Linked DNA regions of Homo sapiens. The protein of the gene in region 1 purifies or fractionates together with the protein of each later gene. This does not show direct contact. Each region holds a gene or a part of one and is shown in the gene's direction. Other genes may lie near its edges. The genes, in order: ZNF133, MCAT, STK4, DAP3, MTERF3, SH2D4A and STK3.

Region 1 (4,052 bases):
GTCAGCCATCTGTGTCTTTATTGTACAGCCAGCACAAGTGAACACTTGAACACAGGCATCCCTGCATTGTTGTTCTGAACCTTTATGTGTATTAACAACTAATTTCTTGGTGATGACTGACTCATGAGGCAGAGAATGATGTTGAGGGATGAATCCAATTGACACTGGACATGTCTCCGGAGCCAGGACTGAACTGAATTCACAATAAATAATGTAGCCTCGGGGTACCAGAAGGGAATGGATTCACCCTCTGAGAGCTACAAAAGAATTTTAGGAAATTCTCATCTCCCTGGCCCTTCAGACAGTGGTCATTTTCTTGGTCTTCCAAGAGAATGACAAAGTTTCAGAAAGCCTATCTGAGGAAGGTGAAGGGCAGTGAGAGGGTGCACGGGTGGAAAAGCCCTCTCAAGAGTGACGTGGGCCTTCCCCTCGAGCTCCCCAGATGGGGCGTCCCAGATGGCACCAGCGCAATCTTGTTCTCAACCAGGATCCCGGACAAAGACCTAGAGATCCAAGCCGACGGCAGGCCAAGCTCTGGCCCGAGACTGAGGCTTCTGCTTCTCAGGAGATGAGAGTTTAACAATAACTTCGTGGATTTCAAAAAGAAGAAAAAGGTCTCAGGGCACCGGAAAAGGTGTATTCGGGTTGAGGGCGTGGGCTCAGAATCGGGTCTACCTCGTACGGGATGTGAGACTTCAGGCAGACTGCTCGGCCTTTTCAAGGCTTTAAATGGAGCTAAAGGGTATACGACATGACGTTCGCCCGGTGTTTAGGAATATGGGGCGTGACTTTCCAAGCAGGCGGCTGGAGCCAGGGAGACCACAGGCCGCTGCAACACAAACCAGCACCTGAACAAGCTTGGTCAGCCAGCGGTACACCTCCGCCAACCCCAGAAGCCGAACAGATGCGCCCCGAAACGTCATTTCCGCGCGCCAAGGGGCGGGGCCGGTACCGGGTGCGGAAGTCGCTCCAGGGGTCACTGGGAAGTGTAGTTTTCGAGACAGAGGCGCTCAGAAGGAGGGTCACAGTAGGGCCAGGCACTCTTCTCGGGAGCTCCTACGTGTTTTATGCACGTGGTTAAGAAAAAAGAGGGAGAATTCAGGTGCCACAGTGGCCATTCTCCGGTGACCGGAGCGTGTTACTCAGAAACGGATCCGTCAGAGGCCAATGGGAGCTGCCGGCCTTCAGGGCGCGCCTGGTGGCGCCGAGCATCCTGGGAGGTGTGGTCCGGGCGCTGTGCCGAGGATTCGGGGTAGTGTAGTCCTGGCGCCCCGCTGGAGGAGCTCCCCAGCTGGTGGCTGGAGCGACCCCTTGTTCTTTGGTGGCGCTGGTGAGTGAGGCTCCCGCGGGACCCTTGCCGCAGCCGTACCCTTTTCTGCGCGAAAAGGAAGGTCCCGAAAGGCTGGACTATGGGCTGAATTTGGGGACCGTGCGGGTGGCGCGGGGGTGGTGATTGTGGTGGGAACGCGCTGGCGTGGCGCAGGCCGTCCTCTCCCAGATGTCTTATTTTGGGGGTGTGGGCGTGCATCTCCAGGGGAGTTGGGTGAAGCCCATCCGTGAAACTGGATGGTGATGAGTGGGGGATCGGGCTCTCTCTCCTAGGGTTCTTGTGGGTGGGGACAGGTTCGGCTTTGGCTGAAGTCGGGTATTGGGAAAGGGAGTCGCTGATGCCATAAGTCCCCGGTTTTGGGGGAGTTGAATAAATAAGCTTTTTGGGGGAATGGTATTTCCCAGGTGGTGGAATGGGAACCATCCCTGGGGCCATGTGTCCCCGAGGCATTGGTCGGTTGAGGGCTAGTCTCTTGGGGCCACACTATTCTTCGGCTTTGCTGGAGTGGAATGAGGAGCGGTCTGGCTTGACCAAACAAGCCAAGGTTAGACTGGATCTGGGGTGGCCATTTTGCCGCGATCTTAGGGTTTCACTTTGGTTGGTCACCCCCGGGTTCGGGCGTTGGAGGAGGAAGTCTGGCTGGGACGCACAGGACAGGTTTTTTCCAAAGGTCCCAGGGACCGTCATTGATCGCAAGAATTACGGATTCCCAGGCCCCTGGTGTGGCCAGGCTTTGGGATTTTACATTCCATTTAAGTTTTTATTGCGGAGAAATTTCAAACAGCCAGAAGTAGATAGAACTCTATAGACCAGATCTCCATCACCCAGATTCAACACTTAAAACCTTATGACCAATCTTGATTCATCTCAGAATGGACACAGAGAATCCTTGCAATCCAGAGTTCACCGTCACTGCCCTTACTGTGTAAGAGCACGGTCTCCACAGCCACATTTCCTCTAGGCTCTGTCACTTTATAGCTGTGTCACCTTGGGCAAGATGCTGACTTCACTGTACCTCAGTTTCCTCGATTTTATCCTAAAGAGGATAATAGCATCTATCGTATTGGGTTGTTGAAAGGATAGAATGAGGTGAAACTCCTACAGTGGCTGTAACAGTCTCTGGTGTATACTAAGTGTTCAGTGAATATTACCTTTCATTAATAACAGGCACAGAGAAGGTCGCTTCATGCTCAGCGTCAACAGCATATCAGGGCAGGTCGTGCTTTCAACCTGTACCCCAGCTGTGTTCCCAGGAAGCTGCCCGCAGTTCTTTTCTCCTTTTCTTCTGTGGCAGGTTCATTCCTGATGCTGTTAAGGAATAGGAGGTACTGCCCTGCTGGAGAGGATTTCCCTTGATTTTCTTGAACGCTTTTTGTTCTTGTTCTGCCTCCCTGTGGCTCCTGTCTGCCCAGAGAGGACTGCCTGCTGGGGAAAGGGGGTACTCCTGAGCTCCTGACAGCCCAGCTTCAGGTGGGTGCCACTTACCTTTTGCATTTCGAACCATGAGTGGGTTTCTTTTGCTCAGCTTTGACGTCTGTGTTCTACAATGTCCCATCCAGGGATCAGGGCCCCAGCTGGTTCCTTCAGGAAACTAGGCTTGTTTTAAGAGTGATCATTTTCACAGGGAATATTTTTCAGAGCTGATGCTCTCATTCATTACACCTATATTCTTCCCCTACATTCCTTCTTTCAGTATTTGTTCAGACTGCTCATTCCCAGGGCTTGTCAGGTCCTGTGAAGTTGTTAACATTCTGTTCTTCTGTCTTCCAATACTCTCACTTACTCTTTTCCCTGCTAGAGTTTTGGCAGCAAATCCCAGTTATATCATTTCACCTGGGAACACTTCAGGAGGCATCTCTAACACATAAGGACTTCTTTTTTTAACATAACCACAATTTCATTGTTATACAGTTACATTGTTACAATTATATTTTGTTATACCCAACAAAATTAATAACTTATTAATATCATTTAATATCTAGCCCATATTGTTTTCCCCCATTGTTAAAAAAAAAATCTTTTTTTTCCACCAGTCAGAACAGCCCTGGTCAGAGGCAGGAGAGGGAAAAGTATCTGGAAACAGCATCCCAGTTTTCCCTATCTCTGCCTCATTTCTCCTCCTATTTCTTCTGATCTTGCTGATCTGTGTTGACAGCCTTATAACTTGATATAAGCTGGACCTCTGAGTTTTCCTTGCATCCTTGTTTCCAAACTTACTTCCCATTAGAAGTTGTGTCCTCCTGGCCGGGCACAGTGGCTCACACCTGTAATCAGCACTTTGGGGGGCCAGAGCGGGCAGATCACCTGAGGTCAGGAGTTCGAGACCAGCCTGGCCAACATGGTGAAACCCCATCTCTACTAAAAATACAAAAATTAGCCAGGCGTGGTGGCACACACCAATAATCCCAGCTATTCAGGAGGCTGAGGCAGGAGAATCTGTCGCCTGGGCAACAGAGCAAGACTCCACCTCAAAACAAAACAAAAGTTGTATCCTCCTATTCCACCTGTGCATTCTTCTCGATTCCTTTTCTTTCCCTTTGTCTCCATTTCTGCACTGCCCTAGCTTCCTGTCTCTTCTTCACCTTCTTGCCTTGTCTTTCCTCCCATTTAGAGCTGAACTCCTTGAAAGAATTATCTATGTTTGTTGTCTGCGTTGCTATCCTTCTGTTATGTTTCGAATATTTTAGTAAGGCTTTTTCAAGTGACACCAAAAAATATTCTT
Region 2 (3,500 bases), on another chromosome or scaffold:
GCATTCCAGCCTGGGTGACAGAGTGACACCCTGTCACACACACACACATACACAAAATTAGCTGCACTTAGTGGCATGCATCTGTAATTCCAGCTACTCAGGAGGCTGAGGGAAGATCACTTGAGCCCCTGAGTCTGAGGCTGCAGTGAGCCACGATTGTGCCACTGCACTGCGGCATGGGTGACAGAGCAAGACCCTGTCCAAAACAAACAAAAAAGAATCTAGTATAGAAACACGAGAGGTTATTGGGACTGGAGAGGGAGAAATGGAGAGTGCCTACATAGTGGACATGGAGTGTTTGAAACTAGAGAGAGTTGGTGGTTGTACAACATTATGAATACCCCAAATACCACTGAATTATACACATTAAAGTGGTTAATTATATTTTATGTGAATTTCACTGCAGTGCTTTTTTTTTAAGCGTTATAACATTATTAAGGAAAGTTTCATAATTTCACATTTTATGAAACAATTTTATTACATGTATCATTTTATGTGTACATAATGTGCAGAATTAGGCTTGGTGTGGTGGCTCACGCCTGTAATCCCAGCCCAGCACTTTGGGAGGCCAAGGTGGGTGGATCACCTAAGGCAGGAGTTTGAGACCAGCCTGACCAACGTGGTAAAACCCCATCTCTACTAAAAATTCAAAAATTATCTGGGTGTGGTGGCGTGCACCTGTAATCTTAGCTACTTGGGAGGCTGAGGCACAAGAATCACTTGAACCAGGAGGCAGAGGTTGCAGTGAGCCGAGATTGTGCCACTGCACTCCAGCTTGGGTTAGAGAATGAGACTCTGTGTCAAAAAAAAAAAAAAAAGTGCAGAATTATAGCATAGTTACACTTTTGTGTTTTCTTTTTCTTTTTCTTTTTTGAGGCAGTATCTTGCTCTGTCACCCCAGCTGCAGTGCAGTGGTGCAGTCGTAGCTCACTGCAGCCTCAGCCTCTTGGCCTCAAGTGATCCTCCCGCTTCAGTCTCCAGACTAACTGGGACTACAGGCTCACACCATCATGCCCAGCTAATTTTAGAAGTTTTTGTAGAGATGGGGTCTCGCTATGTTGCCAGGGCTGGTCTGGAACTCCTGACTCAAGTGATCCTCCAGCTTCAGCCTCCTACAGTGCTGGGATTACTTACAGGCATTAGCCACTGTGCCTGGCCTACTTTTTTCCCTTGACATTTTACATAGTTTTGAATGTCTCTGTGGGAGGATGTCTGCGTGCTCTCCTCCCTTTTCTTGTATGTTTTCTTCTACTTCTTGTCACAGGCTCTTGTTCATTTGTTTTTTAAGAGACAGAGTTTTCCTCTGTCTTCCAGCCTTGAGTGCAGTGATGCAACCATAGCTCACTGCAGCCTCTAACTCCTGATCTCAAGCAGTCCTCCTGCCTTAGCCTCCTAAGTACCTGATGTCACAGGCTGTTTATGTATTTGTCCTCCTGTTCTTGTGTAAGGGAGCTAAAAGTCCAGTACATAGAAGTGCTAAGTGAATGAAGATATGTCAGGATTTGCTCCTTAGACCTCTCTGTTGACCTGTGAAACACTGTGCAGGTCCCTTAATCTCTTCTCAGTCTGGTCATCTCTTCTCTCTGCCCAGGAAGCAGGACCAGGGTGTCAGGGGTCTGGTAGTTTCAGGCCATTCTTATGTGTGGCTTTGTAGGGATTTTTGAGACAGGGTCTCGCTCTGTCACCCAGGCTGGAATACAGTGGCATGAACACAGCTCACTGTAGCCTCAACTTCCTGGGCTCCAGCAATCCTCCCACCTCAGCCTCCCAAGTAGCTGGGACCACAGGCGCACACTGCCACGCCCGGCTAATTTTTGTATTTTTGGTAGTGACAGGGTTTTACCATGTTGTCTAGTCTGGTCTCGAACTCCTGAGCTCAAGTGATCTGCCTGCCTTGGCCTCCCAAAGTGCCGGAACTACAGGTGCGAGCCACAGCGACCAGCCCTCAGGCCACTCTTATTATCATTGGCACTGCCTGCCCTCTCTCCATGCTCTTGAGCCACACTGAATCAGGAGTCATAGGTTTTCGTTCATCTGCATTGGCTGTGTCAGGTTCTCCAGCTCTAAGTGGGGACAGTAACACTTGACTTATGACAATTATGTCACTGAAATTCATGTAGTACAGTAGCCCATGTCTCTGATGGTTCTTTTTTGTTGTTCTTGTTTTGAGACAGGGTCTTGCTCTGTCACCAGGCTGGTGTGCAGTGGAGCAATCATAGCTTACTACAGCTGCAGCCTCAACCTGCTGGTCACAAGTGATCCTTCCGTGTCAGCCTCCCAAGCATCTGGGACTACAGGCAGGCACCACCATGCCTGGCTAATTTGTATTTTATTTTTTGCAGGGACAGGGTCTCCCTATGTTGCTCAGGCTGGTGTCGAGCTCCTTGGGCTCAAGCCGTCCTGCCTCAGCCTCCCAAAGTGCTGGGATTACAGGCATAAGCCACCATGCCCGGCCTGATCTCTCTTAATAAACTAACTAATAATAATTCCCAGCTTTCACAACAGCCCAGGCAGATTAGATATTATTATCCTCATTTTACTAACTAAAAATTTGAACCTCAAGGAGGTTGTGACTTGGCTAAGGCAATGTGGCTTCCACCCTGTTCCTCTTTACCTTTTACCAGGGTTTCTCAATAGTGGCACTATTTAAAAAAAAAAAAAAACAGTGGCGCTATTGGGCCAGGTCATTTGTTTTGTTGGGGGCAAGGGGGGCTGACCTGTGCAGTGCAGCATGTTGAGCAGCATCCCTGGACTCTACCCACTAGACGTCAGTGGCACTCTCCCCTAGTCAGAACAACCGGAAAACGTCTCCGGACACTGCCCCCGGCCTGTTGAGCACCACTGTCCTACTCCAAACCAGCTTTATAGCAGGAAGCTCCTTGGGTTAGTTTGTATAGTGCCAAGCACAGCAGCATACTTTTGGTGGTGAGCGCTTGTGCAGTCGATGGAGGTGTGTGGAACTGTGGCCCTGCTGGCTGGTGGCAGACACCAGTGCCCCTGTCTCTAGTGCAGAGTGGAGCTTGGGCTTTGTTTCTCAGGCCTGGCCTTTTCTCCTTCATTCTGTGCCCTCATTTTTCCAAATGCGCTTCTCTCTGGCCAGGTTTGTATGCAGTGAAAATCCGAGCTGAGGCCATGCAGGAAGCTTCAGAAGCTGTCCCCAGTGGGATGCTGTCTGTCCTCGGCCAGCCTCAGTCCAAGTTCAACTTCGCCTGTTTGGAAGCCCGGGAACACTGCAAGTCTTTAGGCATAGAGAACCCCGTATGTGAAGTGTCCAACTACCTCTTTCCAGATTGCAGGGTGATTTCAGGACACCAAGAGGTGGGTGTTGATGGGAACTGCCTTCATAGGCCAGTCCAGTACGGAGGGTTGGAACTGCTCCACACCCGTGAGGCCTAGCAGTCTGGCGGGTGCTGGGTCCAGCCCGGTCTTTAGGAAGTATTTTGGGGCCAGGGCAGTGAGGTAGACCGAGTGCTGCAAAGCAGGCAGGAGCAAGAATGCTG
Region 3 (3,005 bases), about 27 Mb from region 1:
CTGGGATTACAGCATATGCCACCATGCCCAGATTATTTTTTTGTATTTGTAGTAGAGACGGGGTTTCACCATGTCAGTCAGGCTGGTCTTGAACTCCTGACCTCAGGTGATCCACCCGCCTCAGCCTCCCACACTGCTGGGATTACAGGCATGAGCCACCGCTCCTGGCCTCTCTTTCTTTTTTAAACAAAGAACTTTGCACTTGGCCAGAGAGGAGGAGAAAGCCCATTTTCTCCCTTCCTAAGCTAGATCCAAATAAAAGAAAGTTCAGTTTTCCCCCATAACTATTCTTGGGTCATGAACTTTGATCTGGAGTTTGTTTTGTTTCAGGAATGTGTGCACCCAGCTTGCTGATCCAACAAAGTCTATTGCTTACCAGTCTAGCTTGATGAAGCCTTTTGGCCAGAAGTCAATTTGTTTTGGATCAGAGAAATTTCCTGACAAGGTATATTTGTTTTCTAGTGACAGAAAGGCAAAGGAACAAGTCCTAGTTGTTGTTGTTGTTGTTGAATACTAAATTTAAGATATGTCAGCTTGCTTTCAATGAGCCTTGGGCTTCTGTTATTGCTTGAGCATTTGGAACTCGAGCTTCCAGAGAAATTTGAGGTCCTCGCTTGTTCTCTGCCTTCAAGAAACAATGACCTGATTCTGTCTTTAAAAAAAAAAATCTCAGAATTCTTTTTTTGTTTGTGTTTTTTTTTTTTTTTGAGACAGAGTCTCACTCTGTTGCCCAGGCTGGAGTGCAGTGGCGCCATCTCGGCTCACTGCAACCTCCGCCTCCCAGGTTCAAGCAATTCTCCTGCCTCAGCCTCCCAGGTAGCTGCCACTACAGGTGCTGCACCACCACGCCCGGCTAATTTTTGTATTTTTAGTAGAGACAGGGTTTCACCATATTAGCCAGGTGGGTCTTGAACTCCTGACCTTGTGATCCACCCGCCTCGGCCTCCCAAAGTGCTGGGATTACAGGCGTGAGCCACCTTGCCTGGCCAAAAATCTCAGAATTCTTTAAGACTGTTTTAATTGCTCCATCAGTAATTTTGAAGCACTTTCCTTTTTTTTTTTTTTTCCCCTTTTTGTCCCTTTCCCCAAGCCACCAATTGGATGGATGAATGTTTGACGGGGAAGAGGAAGGGTAGGAGGATGCATGGATGAGTGGATGAGTGGATCGATGGATGTATTGATAAATAGATAGAACCAGTCATCTGAAGCAACTTAAGAATTGTAGCCTTGACTCCTTGAGACTGTAGATTTCGATCCAGGAAACATTTATTTAGCACCTGCCAGATGCCAGAAATTTATACCATTTAAAACTCAGTAAGTCTTTTAAATATCAGGAAGGAGAGAAGCGACATCATGATACATCCTATGGGTATTAAAAAGCCAATAGAATATTATGAATAATTTTATGCTAATAAATTTAACAACTTCAACATCATAAACAAATTCCTTGAAAAATAAAAAGTACCAAAATTCATTCAAGAAGAAATAGATACCAGCCTGAGCAACATGGCAAAATCCCATCTCTACAAAACATCAAAAAAAAAAAAAATTAGTCGGGCATGGTGGTGCACACCTGTAATCCCAGCTTGTCAGGAGGCTGAAGTGGGAGGATCACCTGAGCCCAGGGAGGTCAAGGATGCAGTGAGCCATGGTCTCACCACTGCACTCTAGCCTGGGTGACAGAATGAGACCCCGTCTCAAAAAAAAAGAAGAAGTAGATAATCTGAATAGCCCTATATCTATAGAAACTTAATAGTGCTGGGAGATATAGGTATTATTATCCTCATTTTACAGATGTGAAAATTGAGGCTCAGAGAAGTAAAGTCTATTGCTCAAGGTCATGTGGCTAGAATATGGCAGAGCCATGATTCAGATCCAGGTCTTCTGATTCTTATTCCAGTGTCCTTTCTAGCATACCATGTTGCCTCTAAAGATTGCAGCTCCTTATTTACTAGAAAATTGTTCCTGCCCAATCTACATCTCCACCTCACCCCATCTTTTCTTAAGCACTATGTTTGTGTTTTTATCAGTATTATATTCATTGTCTTTGGAATACATGTTCTTGTTTGTGTTTGGAAAAAAAATCTCTTTTACCAGCTTGCACTCGGACCAACTTGGAAAAAAAAAAGCTTAAATGTTTTTGCTATGTACAGTTTAAAAATGTGAAGTTTGTAGCTTTAACTTTTTGTAAGAAAATCTAATAACACTGGCTTAAGTGCTGACTTGAAATGCTATTTTGTAAGGTTTGGATGTAAGTAATCAATTGAGGTCAGCAGTTTGTATGAGACATAGCTTCCTCCATTGCCCCCACTCCTTTTTTCTTTTTTAAGTTTGAGATGCTTCCTGTGTTTTTATGTTAGAATTGTTGTTCTCCTTCTTTTCTTCTTCCTATACCTCATCACGTTTGTTTTAAATAAACTGTCCTTTGGACCACAAACCCTTATTAACGAGAACCTCAATATATAGCCTGGATAATGGTGTTGTGAACAATCTTTGTGACATTGACTCAGTGGTGTGTTTATTCTAAGATCCAAAGCTGGGGAGAGGTTGGTAAACTTTTGTTGGGCTTCTATTATGTGCCAGGGTACTGAGCTAGTTATCAGGAATATAATAAAGATGAACCAGATACAGTTTTTGCAGGGCATTTGGGGAGTTAGCCAAGCACAAAAACACACAACATTGAACATACCATGGTAGAAGAAGGTACAGGGCCTGTGGATACACAGAAGAGGGAGTGACGGTTCTGCTGGGATGTCCAAGGAAACTCTTCTAGAGGAGACAATATACCTTGAAACTTTAAAAATGAAGAAGAGATGGCTAGATTAATAAAGAGTAGGAAGTGAGGGAGAGAAGACATCCTGGACAGAAGAGCCCGCCTGTATAAAGCCTCTAGTGTGAGATGATCACCTTGGAATCCTTCATCCTCATCTGCTGCTGCACGAAGCCAGGCCAGACGTGGCCCAGCATTCAGAGGTGGAACAGCAGGTTCCTGCCCTGGTGTGGCC
Region 4 (3,500 bases), on another chromosome or scaffold:
ACTATTTATCAGCATTCTAGAGTCGTCAGTATGGATTGTCAAAACTTGCATTTGTCTCTTTTTTGTTCAGTGTTGTGTGCATCCACATTTTCTTTCTTTTTTAAACAACCCTGCTTATGTAACATCCACATTTTCTGACTTACCTTTCAAACCTGCCAGAAAGCAGAAGTGATATTTAATACACTTGGTATGTTTTATATATTGATTCTAATGATAATGTTTAGTCTAAGATGGACCTGACAAGGCCAGGCATAGTGGTTCAACAGCACTTTGAGAGGCTGAGGCAGGATGATTGCCTGAGCCTAGGAGTTCAAGGTTACAGTGAACTGTGATCACATCCTGCCTTCTAGCCTGGGTGACAGAGCAAGACCCTGTCTCAAAAAAAAAAAAAAAAAAGAAAAGAAATATATATATGAGAAACTAAAGTCATTTCCCATAACTTAAAAGAGGCATAGAATATTTCGAGTTGAATACAGTTTCTGCCTGGCTTGTTTTCTTCTGCCTCTTTTTTTTAAAGCTCATCTTTGGGTGAAAAATTGTCGGGATCTTCTGCAGTCCAGCTACAACAAACAGCGCTTTGATCAACCTTTAGAGGCTTCAACCTGGCTGAAGAATTTCAAAACTACAAATGAGCGCTTCCTGAACCAGGTGACTAGACTCCCAGAAGTTGAGTGCTAGGTAGTCCTTACATGGATTCTTTGTGCCCTGAGTACCAATAGACTATGGAGAACTGATACTGGAGTTGGAATAACTGTATCATTTTTAATTTCTTTCATACGTTTTGCTCACAGTGGACTCATAACTTGAAACTCATTTATCCATGTGAAATAAATAGGCAACAGTAAGTTGTTCCCATTTTGTGGGTAGCAAAGTGAAATCCAGTTGATTCATTGACTTTTCAAGGTACAGCCTCCAATCCCTCGCAAGCACATTTCCAACTACATGATTTTCTCCAGACAATATCTTTTTAGGGAACCAGAAATGTATTGGAAAAATTCTTCTTTACCCTGGTGATTCTTAGATACCCTGTCTAGACCAGGGGCCTTCAACTCTGGATATAAAGCAGAGTCACCTAAGAGCTTGTTAAAAATGCAGATGCCAGAGTCTCATTCTGGACATTTTCATCAGAATCCCTTATGTATGTTTATTCAAGGCTCCAAGCAGAAATGGATTAGAAAGCATTCACTTTGGTCAGGCACAGGGGCTCACACCTGTAATGTCAGCACTTTGGGAGGCCAAGGCAGGCAGATCACCTGAGGTCAGGAGTTCAAGATGAGCCTGGCCAACATGGTGAAATCCCATCTCTACTAAAAATACAAATATTAGCCGGGTGTGGTGGTGCACGCCTGTAGGCCCATCTATTCAGGAGGCTGAGGCAGGGGAATCTCTTGAACCTGGGAATCAGAGGTTTCAGTGAGCCGAGATAGCGCCATTGTACTCCAGCCTGGGTAACAGAGCGAGATATGGTCTCAAAAAAAAGATAAAAGAGGTCAGGCGTGTGGCTCAGACATGTAATTCCAGCATTTTGGGAGGCCGAGGTGGGCAGATCACCTGAGGTCAGGAATTCTAGACCAGCCTGGCCAACATGGCGAAACCCCATCTCTACTAAAAATACAAAAATTAGCCAGGCGTGGTGACACACGCCTGAAATCCCAGCTACTTGGGAGGCTGAGGCAAGAGAATCCCTTAAACCTGGGAGGTGGATGTTGCAGCGAGCTGAGATCATGCCACTGCACTTCAGCCTGGGTTACAGAGAAAGAAGCTGTCTCAAAAAAAAAAAAAAAGAAAGAAAAGAAAGCATTCACTTCTACATTGAGGTCTCTTACAGAACCTGAACAATAGATTAAAATGAACTCCTGTTAACCTTAGCCTCCAACCTTTTCAAGGGATGGTTTCACCCTTAGGCCAAGTAGCCTTTTTTTTGGTTTTTATTTTCTTTGCTTGCTTTTAGATAAAAGTTCAAGAGAAGTATGTCTGGAATAAGAGAGAAAGCACTGAGAAAGGGAGTCCTCTGGGAGAAGTGGTTGAACAGGTATAAGAAAAAACACTGAATGTGTAACATGCGATAACAAGAGAAGGCCTCTGGTAGCACTACAATCCACTGTCTCTCCCAATAGGGCATAACACGGGTGAGGAACGCCACAGATGCAGTTGGAATTGTGCTGAAAGAGCTAAAGAGGCAAAGTTCTTTGGGTATGTTTCACCTCCTAGTGGCCGTGGATGGAATCAATGCTCTTTGGGGAAGAACCACTCTGAAAAGAGAAGATAAAAGCCCGGTAGGAAAACTGGGTGTCTCTATCTTGTTTCTCTGATTTCTGATTCCATCAGTATGGAGGCTGGGTCTTAGCCTTGTAGACCATGCAATATGTTTTCTTGCCCTAGGAATATTTGAAGATAAACAGTAAAGAGCTGGGTGCAGTGGCTCACGCCTGTAATCCCATTGGCTCACGAGGCTGAGGTGGGAGGATCGCTTGAGGCCAGGAGTTCAAGACTAGGATGGGCACTATAGCAAGGCCCCTGCCTCTAAAAAAATAAGAAATTAGCCGGTAGCTGGCATGGTGGCACACACCTGTAGTCACTGCTACTGGAAGGCTGAGGCCAGAGGATCACTTGAGCCCTGGAGTTCAAGGTTGTAGTGTGGCATGATTGCAACACTGCACACCAACCTGGGTGACAGAGTGAAATCCTGTCTCTTAAAAAATATATATATGGCTGGGCACAGTGGCTCATGCCTGTAATCCCAGCACTTGGGGAGGCTGAGGCGGGCGGATCACCTGAGCTTGGAGTTCGAGACCAGCCTGACCAACATGGAGAAACCCATCTCTACTAAAAATACAAAATTAGCCGGGCATGGTGGTGCATGACTGTAATCCCAGTTACTCGGGAGGCTGAGGCAGGAGAATCGCTTGAACCCAGGAGGCGGAGGTTGCAGTGAGCCGAGATCGCCATATATATATATTCATATATATGTATATATACACACATATATATTCATATATGTATATATACACACATATATTCATATATATTTATATATACATATATTCATATGTTTTCATAATATACGAATATACCTATATGTTCATATATGTATATATAATATTCATATATGTATATATGTATATATAATATTCATATATGTATATATGTATATATACGTATATATGCACACATACATATTCGTATATGCATATGCACACATACATATTCGTATATATATGTGAAGATAAACAGCAAGGCCTGGTGTGATGGCTGATAAATCCCAGCACTTTTAGGAGGCCAAGAGGTGATTTGCTTGAGTCCAGGAGTTTGGAGTTTGAGGTCAGCCTGGGCAGCACAGTGAAACCCTGTCCCTACAAAAAATATAAAAAACTAGCTGGGCATGGTGGTTTGCACCTGTATGTAGCTCCAGCTACTTGGAAGGCTAAGATGGGAGGATGGCTTGAGCCCAAGAGGCAGAGCCCGCAATGAGTGGAGATCGTGCCACTGCATTCCAGGCT
Region 5 (3,500 bases), on another chromosome or scaffold:
TGCTAAAGACCTAGAGATTACAACGATGAGTAAGGCACAGGGTCATTTTTATTCCCCCTATGATGGGAATCATAAACATATTTTTTAAATAATGCTTATAACTAAGGAAAAATAAAATCTTCAAAGAAGGTAACATTTTATTCATATTGTTTGTTACCCTGCAGAATTACCAGTTACTGTGGGGTTCATCTGGGACTGACAAACATTCTGAAACAATATTCAAGAAACCTTAGACAAAGATGATGACCCTACACCAATATGACTTAGTGAATTTGTTTTGGGGGGAAATGTAGCACTAAATGCTCTATTTTCCTCTGTACTTGATTTTTAAAATAAATACTATGTTGTTTCTGCAACCAACTTAGTTTAAAAATATTTAGAAGTTTCTATTGATCTATCTCAGTGCTCCTTTGGATAGGTGTTGATCTCCATCAGTAATTTCTTGTGCTTATGTATATGAGTTTAATGGGTGAACTAAGAAGTCATCTTCAAACAGTATTTATAATTTATTATAGGCGTGGATTTGTCCAAGATAGAAAAACATCCAGAAGCAGCAAACCTCCTTCTGAGACTGGATTTTGAAAAAGACATTAAGCAAATGCTTCTGTTTCTTAAAGATGTGGGTATAGAGGATAACCAACTGGGAGCATTCCTGACAAAAAATCATGCAATTTTCTCTGAAGACCTTGAAAATCTGAAGACCAGGTAGGACTTTTAAAAGGATTCTCATATAACCTAAGAAGTGGTTATGAAGGAAATATATGTGGAAGGTATTCTTTAAATCTCTGCTGCACAAGGGTCTACTGAGATAACATGAATTTTTTTTGTTATAGACCTTCTTTGATCTAAATTAAGTATTTACAACAGTTCTTTCATTCAAGTACCCATTCTTCTTCTCCCCCTCCCCCTCCCCCCCTCCTCCTCCTCCTTCTTCTTCTTCTTCTTCTTCTTCTTCTTCTTCTTCTTCTTCTTCTTCTTCTTCTTCTTCTTCTTCTGCCTCAGCCTCCCAAGTAGCTGGGTGACTACAGGTGGCCACCATGCCTGGCTAATTTTTGTATTTTTAGGAGAGATGGGGTTTCGCCACATTGGCCAGGCTGTTCTCGAACTCCTGACCTCAAGTGATCTGCCCATCTTGGCCTCCAAAGTGCTGGGATTTTACAGGCATGAGCCACCCTGCCTGGCTCCATTATTATTTTTATGTTTTCAACTTATTACTGAGTCAGTAATTAACTCTTTCTCTTTAGAAACTGGAATACGTTTTTTTCTTAAAAAAAAAAAAAACCCATCAACAAATAGCTAACTTATCTGAGAGTGCACTTAAAGATATGATCTTTTGTGGTTTTTGTAGTTTTTGTCTGGCCAATTTTTGTTGTTAGACATTTGAGATTGTCTTGGCAAATTACTGTATAATTTGCTTAATCATTTCCGTAAGTTGGCTATTTTGGTTGTTCCTTGTTTTCTTCTTAAGGAGCACTTTTATAAACATCTCTGTACTTCATTCAACATTCAAAGAATTATTGAATTTGTGAAAATAAATACAGTGAGATATTGATCTGTGAGGTAAGAATCCTGCTAGGCATTGGGAATACCACAGAGAACAAGGCAAAACCCCTGTCCCTAAGTTAACATGTTGAATTCATCGTCGCCCCCACCTGTCATTCAACCCAGTCTGTATTCCCAGATTCACTGAATACCCTTTTGCCCAACTCAGAAATACTGGTATTAACTTGCTTTCTCTTCTTTTATCATCTACATCTAATAAATCATGAAAGCCCATCAGTTCTTCTCTTCTTATAGCTCAAATCAGTCATGACATTTCTCTGAATCTTTGCTTTGACTATTTTGCCTCAGTTCCCCATAATATCACACCAAGATTACTGCAATGGTCTCCTAATTGGTCTGCCTCTAGTCATGACCCTCCAGACTGTTCTCCACACTGATGTTGATCCTTACTACATTTCAGAGAGCTTTGCGATTCCTTAAACCATCAGTCTAATGTCTTTTCTCGGAATTAGGAAAAAAAACTAAACAAAAACCTTATTTATTAAATTGAACATTTGAGCCCTTCTATATGTGAGACACTGGCCTAAACTTTAGACATCAAAAACAGTCTTTCCCTTCATGAGAGTGATAGTCTATCACAATACAGAAGGGAGAGAGAATGATTCTAAGAAACTCATCTGACATATCCAGCTCTAGTCTTCTTGGCTGTCAGGAACACTAATTCTCTCTGCAGTCAAAAACCAGCTTGCCCTTTTTGCTCAAGATTTATTCCAAGAAAGCATGAATACCAGGAGGGTAGGGATCATTTCACACGCTGCACCATTATTGTTAATAGCACCTTTGTACATAGGAGTCGCAGAGAGGTTAAATAATTTGCCCAAGATTACACACCGTTAGTATAAGTAGCAGAGTAAGTGGTTTCAACCCCAGTTAATCAAACTCCAGGGTTCTGACTACTACACACTGTCTCTACATTTAATTCTTTGAAGGAAACTTAATAGCTTAAGTTACTTGCTCAAGCCATATATGCTCCTAACAATTGAGGAATATTCTCACGTCGGTAGCATAGTCCATTGATTCCTAAACCTGGCTGGCTATCAAATTAAGCTGTAGAACATTTTTAAAAATTACTTAGAATTTTTTAATAGGTAATGCAGCCACATGTATTCAAAAGAGTATACAGTAAAAAATACTGAATAGGCACAGGTATGAGAACCTTTATTTAAATGAACTTTGTTTCTGGTTCTGATATATGCAGCAGTCTTATTTCTATAACAGCACTGATTTCATGTACTTATTTTTTAAATAAAAAGTTATATTTAAAAAATCCTTGTAGAATTTTCAAATGAATAGTCGCATTTTAATTATTTAAATACTCTTTTTTTGGTTGGGTGGGCCTTATATCTTGATTTTTTATTGGAAAAATCATTACAATGTAGACAATAGTTTTGATAATTTTTTAATCAAATGCTGAACCTTGCTGCCAAAAAAACAAGTAATACCTCCTTTTCTCCTACTTTGTCCCTTGGCCTTTCAAGACCCACCTATCGACACAGCTACTGTTATCAGGATTTTTTGTTCAACCTTCTAGGAAGCATATATCTGTGTATACACACATGAATACAAATACATAACAATTGGTAGCATTTATACACACTATTCTGTATCCCACTATCTTACCTTCACTGTATCTTGGAGATTATTTTTTCTTGGTGCTGCCTATTCTTTTTAACTCTAGTACAGTCCATGCTGCGGATCTCGCTAGTACCTATTGATAAGCATGGAGTATGTTTCCAGTCCACTGTTAGGACAAGGCTGTAGTGACTTACCTTGTACATACTTCTGAAAAATCACACATATTGGTGTCTCTCTGTAGGACGTATTTCTAGAAGTGGAAATGCTAGGTCAAAGGGTGTGTTCATCTGTAACTTCAATAGATATTGCCAAATTGTCCTTCATAGGGGTTGTTTTCCAGTTTATACTCTCCCCAACAGTGT
Region 6 (3,500 bases), on another chromosome or scaffold:
TCCCTCTGCTCTTCCTTTTTCTTCCCCTGGCACAGTGCCACTTGCCATCTTTCTGGGCATCTTCCTCTTGCTGTCAAAAAAAAAATACCGACAGAGAACTACTTAGGTGAAGGCTGAGAGGCTGACATAAAAAAAATATTATTAGTTGGCCTGAGAGAGTGTAATAAAGGGAGTTTTATGAGGTATGACAGCTTTCTAAAGTTAACAAACCATCTGGCATTATGTCAAACAGACAAAGAGCTTGCCAGGAGCTGGCACTGGTGCCCAGCCCCATTTGGGCATGGTGGGATTGACCTTCCCCTCCTTACCTGGAGGCCACATTTGCTGTTTCTCCACAGTGAAAACAGTAAATGGGAATTCTTTGGTAGTGCAGAGTCTGAGTCTGTTCCCTCTGCCCAGCGTCTCTGTTTAGAACATACTGCAGGAGTGTCCACTGTACCAAGAAGGGTAGAAAGGGTCAAAAGAAAGCACGAGCCTGGCTTTGAGCAGCCTGCTTTGGTAATGTATCCCAAGGCCACAGTACAAAAGTCAAGAATACGTTGGACAGAAGACACCTTAATTGGAAACCTCCTTTGACTTAGTGTGAGAGGACAAGACACAATCCCAGTGTGGATGTTTTGCTCATCAAACAGGGCCCAGCACACACACCAGCCAGGTGCCCTCTTCCATGCAGTCAGCACCACTGCTAGTTTGGGGTCTTGACTAGAGGTCCACCTTTGGCCCACAGTTGCCCTGGGTAGGCCTGACAGACTCAGGGATGGTCTCTGTTGGCCTCTCCTAGGTACGCTCCACCTGCCCCCGGTTTAAGGGAGCATGACCGATGTGGCCGCATTTCAGGAGCACTAGGATATAATCTAACCTGGAGGCCAATTGTAAACAAGGGTTATTTAAGTAGCTTCACCAAGTATCATACTACCTGGTTATATTATCTTCTCACAGGCTGGTGTGAATCTCTGAGGCAGCCATATAAGTAAATAATAGGCTAGCAATGATAGCAGTTAACCTCTATTGAACTCCTGTTATGTGGCAGGCACTAGGGGAAGAACTTGGCACAGGTAGCCTGCCTGCCCACAGCAACCCTAGGTAGTAAATATTGGTATTCCCATTTTGCAGATGAGGAAATTGAGTCTAAAGAGTTTAAGAAAGTTGTCCAAGTCACATAGCTCGTAAGTGACAGGGCTAGGATTTGAACTCAAGGTGGTCTAAATCTAAAATACCTCCTTATCTGAGGCAAGAGGATTGCTTGAAGCCAGAAGTTTGAGACCAGCCTGGGCAACAAAGCAAAGCCCTGTCTCTACAAAAAATTTTAAAAATTAGCTGGGCATGGTAATGCATGCCTGCATTCCTAACTACTATGAGCTCACCACTGCACTCCAGCCTGAGTGACAGAGCAAGACACCATTTCTAAAATAAAATAATAAATACAAATAAAATACAATATAAATAAAATAATAAAACCTGCTTTTTACCCACCTATGAAGCCTGTGAATGTAGTACAAATGCCACACCCTTGAGCAGCTGTGGAATTCTGGGTTACAGGGAGATAGTTAGATGTAAGAATTTATGGTGTGAAGTGCTAGCTCTGTTACCCTAAAGGATAATGCAAACAATGAATGCTTGCTTCCCATTTCAGTTTCTTCATTTATAAAATAGGCACATGCAGCCAGGCGCAGTGACTCACACCTGTAATCCCAGCACTTTGGCAGGCTGAGGTGGGTGGATCACGAGGTCAGGAGTTCAAGACCAGCCTGGCCAAGATGGTGAAATCCTGTCTCTACTAAAAATACAAAAATTAGCTGGTCGTGGTGGCAGATGCCTGTAATGGTGAAACCCTGTCTCTACTAAAAATACAAAAATTAGCTGGGCATGGTGGCAGGTGCCTGTAATCCCAGCTACTTGGGAGGCTGAGGTGGGGAACGGCTTGAACCCAGAGGCGGAGGTTGCAGTGAGCCAAGATCATGCCACTGCACTCCAGCCTGGGCAACAGTGTGAGACTGTCAAAAAAAAAAAAAAAAAAAAAAGCACGGGCAAAAAACATACCCCTAATATTTTTAAAACAAATATTTTCACTGAAGCTGCCTCTCACTGCCACCACTGCCATTGCTACCTACAGATGTTCCTGAGCAGTTGGAAGTTCTTTGTCTCATCTGATATATATATATATATTTTCAAAGACCCAAAATACTTTAGTGATGGAAACAGTAATCTGTGACTAAAGATATTTGTTCAATCTGAATTTTTTGTTTGTGTGTTTGTTTGCAGAGAATGGCAAATCGGTTCATTGGAAACTTGGAGCTGATAAGGAAGTCTGGGTATGGGTGATGGGCGAACACCATCTAGATAAACCCTATGATGTGCTCTGTAATGAAATTATTGCTGAGAGGGCCCGGCTGAAAGCAGAACAGGAGGCAGAAGAGCCCAGGTATGAGATCTGCAAACCAACCAGAGACTTAAAGACTCTCCAGACTTTAGAAAACATTGCAAACACACCTCTTGCTCACAGTATCAGGTGGGAGAGTAGGGTTGGGTTGGAGGGTCACAAAAGTCACTTTGGATCTCTTTGGAAGGTTGATTTAGACTTTTGGTCTAAAGACCTTTTGGATCTCTTTAGAAGGTTGATTTAGACTTTTGATCTAAAGTCTTTGATAGCACTAAAGACCTCATGAAAATCTTTAGTGCTGTCAAATCAGCTGCTTCATCTCCCTGCTTGTCATTCCAGTTTTGATCTGTATGAGTGTATGAGTTCCCCAGTGATCACCCGTGGCTGCACTAGAGTCATGTTAGAGCAATGCAGGCCGACGCAGCTGAGTATCAGGAACATATGTGAGAAATGCAGTGACTGTGCAAGCTTCAGGCCTTCCAAGGAGATCACTTAGATACAGGCGGCTGGATAATCAGGCTCTTTAGGTGCCTACCCAGTGCAAGGTACTGGGAATTCAAAGAGAAACAGGGAGCTTCCAGTCTAGGAGGAGAAGTAGACATATGCACAGCTCACTGCGGCCAGTGCAGGCTGTGATTTGTGCTATAATTAAGGTACAAACAGAAAGTTTACCAAGCATAGGTGGGAACCTATCATTCTGATCCACAGACGAGGTGAAATCTGAACCAAACCTTGAAAGGAGTGGTTTTCCAGCTACAGAAGGCCAGGAAGGAAAGTGCAGGCAGAGGGCTTAACCAAGATCCCTAGACTTGACTACGGATGGTTCTTTGGGGAATGATGAGGTCTTCTGAGCATTTGGAATACACTTGGACAACTGCTTCAGAGGCCAGATTTAGGAGTTTGGAACTTATTCTCTGGACGGTGAGGTTTTTCAATAGGGAAGTGACATCAACTGCAGATGTAGGAAGGTAACTCGGAGGGAAACTGAGGCAGGTGATGGCGCTCCTCTGCTGGGTACCTGGGGTGCTCTGGGTGTCCTCCTCTGGCTCTGGGCAGTGATGTTGACAGCCTTACCCTGAGGTGGTGAAGTGGAAATTGGGACAGACATGAGGACCACCGT
Region 7 (3,500 bases), on another chromosome or scaffold:
GTATGACTTTTTGTCACAGAGATTTTAGTGAAAACCAATTTTGAAGTTGAACAGATAAGTGGTTTTTATAGCTGCAGTTGTTTTATGGACCTCAGCAAATTTTAAATCCCATGAGCCAACTTTCTGTGTTTTTTGTTTTTACAAGTTAGACATCATTCTGTAATGTGAGACTTCAGTGTTTCCAAAATTCTAATCAAGTGATGTTAGTATAACCCCTAGGGATTGTCATATTGTAGTATAGCAGTAGTAAAGTATGTGAAGAAGTTATTGAGGGAAGACTTACTTTTTCTGAAACCATATAATTATTGTAGTTTTGTTTTTCTCGTGATCTAAATCTTTAAAACTTCTTAAATTAGTTGGTATGAGGTCTCAGCTTATGTCACATCAGTCAAAGCCACATTTGCTAATGTGTCTTTAGCATTTTTGTTCCCTAATAAGATGATAGCAGTATATTATTTTTGGTTTTCTAAAATCTCTACAATGTGTACTGAAGATTTAGAATTTCATCTCTTTTTCCATTGGAGTTTCAAGTGAGTTGCCTGATTTAACATCCTTGTCAGTTTAAATTATGTTTACACTTACTCTTTTATACCTTTAACCATGAAGCTAGAAATTATGGGCCTATTTTCCTTACCTCTAGAAAGGAAAATTACCCACAGACCCTTTGAAGGGAAGTGGAGAAAAATGACAAAAAGTATTTTAAAATTTGATCTGCCTTTTAAAAAATGGACGTGGACCCTATGGGCATGTCCCAAGAATAACTTTCTAAACCTGTTTTTAGCAATGATGGCATTACTTTTACCCTCCCGCTCCCAGTCTTCCTATTCAGATATCCCTAAGGCCTCCTCATTCCCCATGGAATGTCCAGGCTTCAGCTGTGTCACCAAGATCCTTCACAGTCTGGCACTAGCCATTATTTACATGTGGATCTCTACTTCTTCCTTATGGATTATGTTTTATCCATACTAGTCTGTGCCAGTTGGAATTCTGAATGCTTGACACTGGGTAAAAGCAGGTTGGTTGTCATTCAAGAAAATCAATTTAGGATTTATTATCCTGGAGTAGATTAGGACCAGGTCAAGAATCTATGTCATCAAACTGATGGGGTAGGAGAGATTATTTCATCATGGGTGACTCTGGGAGAGTAGTAGCTTCAGCAAAGAAAGACTGGGGCTTTTTAGTTTGTTCAGCTCAGATCTACTCAGTTAGCTCTGTTTTTATGGAGGAACTTTCTGATCTTACAGAGCTGTGGCTAGATTGGTAGCACTAGTTGCCCTGGAGGGAAACTATGTCTTATGGGTATCTGAGGAAGAGCCATATTTTCCAGCCAGGTTTTTATTTTTCATGTGTGTATCTGTTGTTTCTCCAGATAAGTCACGAAGTTTGTCCTGGTAAGAATGCTGTATAAATCTCCTCTGCCACATAATAGTACATGCTCTTGGAATATTGGTTTCATGAATGAATACTAATTACAGTAGAGTCAGAGTCAAGCTGTGTGTGTGTGTGTGTGTGTGTGTGTGTGTGTGTGTGTGTGTGTGTTATAGTAGAATTAAAGATACATAGCTCTGGAAGCTAAGAGAACTTTCAGGTAAACCTCCTGCCTTGGTAAGATACTTTCTTTTCAAGTGTTCTACCATCCCTGCTTCTCATTTCACAGAGCAGACCCTCTGAAAATGTGTTCCTTAAGATACCCATTCAGTGAAATTCTCTGATAAATATAGATAAATAATATACAGTAATCAGAATTATTTGGGAAATGCATATTTATCCTAGAGATAAATTATTAGAGAACTACAGTATATATTATTAACTTATTAAATACAAATAGTACAGGAAGGAAACAGTTTAAAAATTACATTACCCAAACTTTCCTTCACTTATTTGACCATGAAAAGCTTTTAATGAGGAACGTATCAGTGATTAACATCCTGTGTAATAAGCATCTGAGAAACACATTTTGGGAAATGCTATCATGAGAGCCCTCTAGTTCCCTGACCCTAGTTCCTAGTCTGCTTTCTTTTTATTAGCACACCCTCCCTTCACTTCTATATCCAGCTTAGAGGCTATATTTCATTATTTCGTTGCTTCTGCCACTCTCGTATGTTCTAAACTCCTCTTAGAGGCTATATTTCATTATTTCATTGCTTCTGCCACTCTCTTATGTTCTAAACTCCTCTTAGAGGCTATATTTCATTGCTTCTGCCACTCTCTTATATTCTAAACTCCACTGCCCTAATGTCTTGTCTTTTCTGCCTCTCCTGGAAAACTTTGATATGGTCCAGTCTCAGTGTTCATCTTCTCTGCATCTTTACCCTGGCTATTGAGTGCTGCTGGAGATAATCTTCCATCTGCACAGATGAGGGCTGCCAGATCAAGACCTTCTCCCCCATTTGGGCCCTCAACTTTCCTGGAGGCCTGTGTTTCTCTGTTCAGCAATTCCTCATTCTACAGAGTGGCTAGTTTAGATCTTCACTAGATCTCTTCTTCCTGCCTCCCATCTCAGTTTCAGTAGATGACGTTGCTCCCTACTTTACAGAAAAAAAGTGAAATGTTATCATGCAAGTACCTAGAGAAGCTGTATAGGTGTTTTAAATGTGGTCTTTGGAATAAGGTTGAAAAATTGAGTCATTCTTAATTTCCGTTTCTTCCTTCACCCTTCATGGAAGTAACATCTCATCAGTTCTGCCCCCTAAATATCCCTATTCTCTTCTCATGATCTCTGCTTGCATTTCTTTAGTGCAAGTCCTCATAGTTTCTCACTTGTGAGGCTTCTAAACTGATCCTCTGCCTCCAATCTTCATTCCCTCCCCACCATACAGATTTCAGCACATTTCTCTTCTGCTTATGCCCTCCCAGTGACTACCAATTGCTTATAGGCTAAAGCTCAACACCAGTTAAGAAGCAGTATATGCTCTGGTTCCTACTTACCTTTCTATTCCCTCTTCATCCTTCTTCCAGCTTCTCAGCTCTTACAGAGCTTTTTTACCTTTGGCCACTTGCAATGCCTAAATCCTCCTGTGGGATTTATGCTTCTTTTGCTAAATCATATTCATTCACTCAGGCTCAGTTAAGAGGTTGCTTCCTCTATCAACCCCAGGTTAGGAATAAGTGCCCCTCTAATAGGCTCCCATCTCACCCCAAGCTTTCACTCTTACAGCACTGTCATGCTTTATTGTGAGCGTGTGCTTTTGTTTATTTCCCACTGTATTTTTGATACCTAATACAATACCTAGCACTTGGTAAGAGTTCATGAAATGTTTTCTGAACAAATGATGTGGTATAGTGAAGAGCATGGGATGTGAAGCCAAATCATTTAGTAATTGTGTTGCTTAATTCTGTCTGAGTTTCAGTGATAAATATTTGTCTCTCTGTTGTGTGTATATGTGCAGGTGTGTGTATTAGGTAAATTCAAAACATGCCTAGCAGTGTTTTAAATATAGTTGATAATCAATAAAGGATAATATTCATCTGTCCACCCTATTAATTTATCCTTCCAACAA

The links.
Region 2: the proteins of ZNF133 (region 1) and MCAT purify together in Homo sapiens (affinity purification with mass spectrometry; one large-scale study listed by BioGRID and IntAct). This does not show direct contact.
Region 3: the proteins of ZNF133 (region 1) and STK4 purify together in Homo sapiens (affinity purification with mass spectrometry; 2 studies listed by BioGRID and IntAct, with this or other methods). This does not show direct contact.
Region 4: the proteins of ZNF133 (region 1) and DAP3 purify together in Homo sapiens (affinity purification with mass spectrometry; 2 studies listed by BioGRID and IntAct, with this or other methods). This does not show direct contact.
Region 5: the proteins of ZNF133 (region 1) and MTERF3 purify together in Homo sapiens (affinity purification with mass spectrometry; one large-scale study listed by BioGRID and IntAct). This does not show direct contact.
Region 6: the proteins of ZNF133 (region 1) and SH2D4A purify together in Homo sapiens (affinity purification with mass spectrometry; one large-scale study listed by BioGRID and IntAct). This does not show direct contact.
Region 7: the proteins of ZNF133 (region 1) and STK3 purify together in Homo sapiens (affinity purification with mass spectrometry; 2 studies listed by BioGRID and IntAct, with this or other methods). This does not show direct contact.

What each region holds. Positions count from the first base shown.
Region 1 is NC_000020.11:18,287,275-18,291,326, forward strand, and holds the start of ZNF133 (zinc finger protein 133), read left to right. Parts: upstream 1-1,252; 5' UTR 1,253-1,330; intron 1,331-2,624; exon of another isoform or gene 2,625-2,800; intron 2,801-4,052. UniProt on the Homo sapiens protein: May be involved in transcriptional regulation as a repressor.
Region 2 is NC_000022.11:43,136,899-43,140,398, reverse strand, and holds part of MCAT (malonyl-CoA-acyl carrier protein transacylase, mitochondrial isoform a precursor), read left to right. Parts: intron 1-3,100; coding exon 3,101-3,318; intron 3,319-3,500. UniProt on the Homo sapiens protein: Catalyzes the transfer of a malonyl moiety from malonyl-CoA to the free thiol group of the phosphopantetheine arm of the mitochondrial ACP protein (NDUFAB1). This suggests the existence of the biosynthesis of fatty acids in mitochondria.
Region 3 is NC_000020.11:45,077,517-45,080,521, forward strand, and holds the end of STK4 (serine/threonine-protein kinase 4), read left to right. Parts: 3' UTR 1-2,505; downstream 2,506-3,005. UniProt on the Homo sapiens protein: Stress-activated, pro-apoptotic kinase which, following caspase-cleavage, enters the nucleus and induces chromatin condensation followed by internucleosomal DNA fragmentation.
Region 4 is NC_000001.11:155,727,091-155,730,590, forward strand, and holds part of DAP3 (small ribosomal subunit protein mS29), read left to right. Parts: intron 1-517; coding exon 518-648; intron 649-1,951; coding exon 1,952-2,032; intron 2,033-2,117; coding exon 2,118-2,276; intron 2,277-3,500. UniProt on the Homo sapiens protein: As a component of the mitochondrial small ribosomal subunit, it plays a role in the translation of mitochondrial mRNAs. Involved in mediating interferon-gamma-induced cell death. Displays GTPase activity in vitro.
Region 5 is NC_000008.11:96,248,111-96,251,610, reverse strand, and holds part of MTERF3 (transcription termination factor 3, mitochondrial isoform 1 precursor), read left to right. Parts: intron 1-515; coding exon 516-705; intron 706-3,500.
Region 6 is NC_000008.11:19,330,693-19,334,192, forward strand, and holds part of SH2D4A (SH2 domain-containing protein 4A), read left to right. Parts: intron 1-2,262; coding exon 2,263-2,422; intron 2,423-3,500. UniProt on the Homo sapiens protein: Inhibits estrogen-induced cell proliferation by competing with PLCG for binding to ESR1, blocking the effect of estrogen on PLCG and repressing estrogen-induced proliferation. May play a role in T-cell development and function.
Region 7 is NC_000008.11:98,542,689-98,546,188, reverse strand, and holds part of STK3 (serine/threonine-protein kinase 3), read left to right. Parts: intron 1-3,500. UniProt on the Homo sapiens protein: Stress-activated, pro-apoptotic kinase which, following caspase-cleavage, enters the nucleus and induces chromatin condensation followed by internucleosomal DNA fragmentation.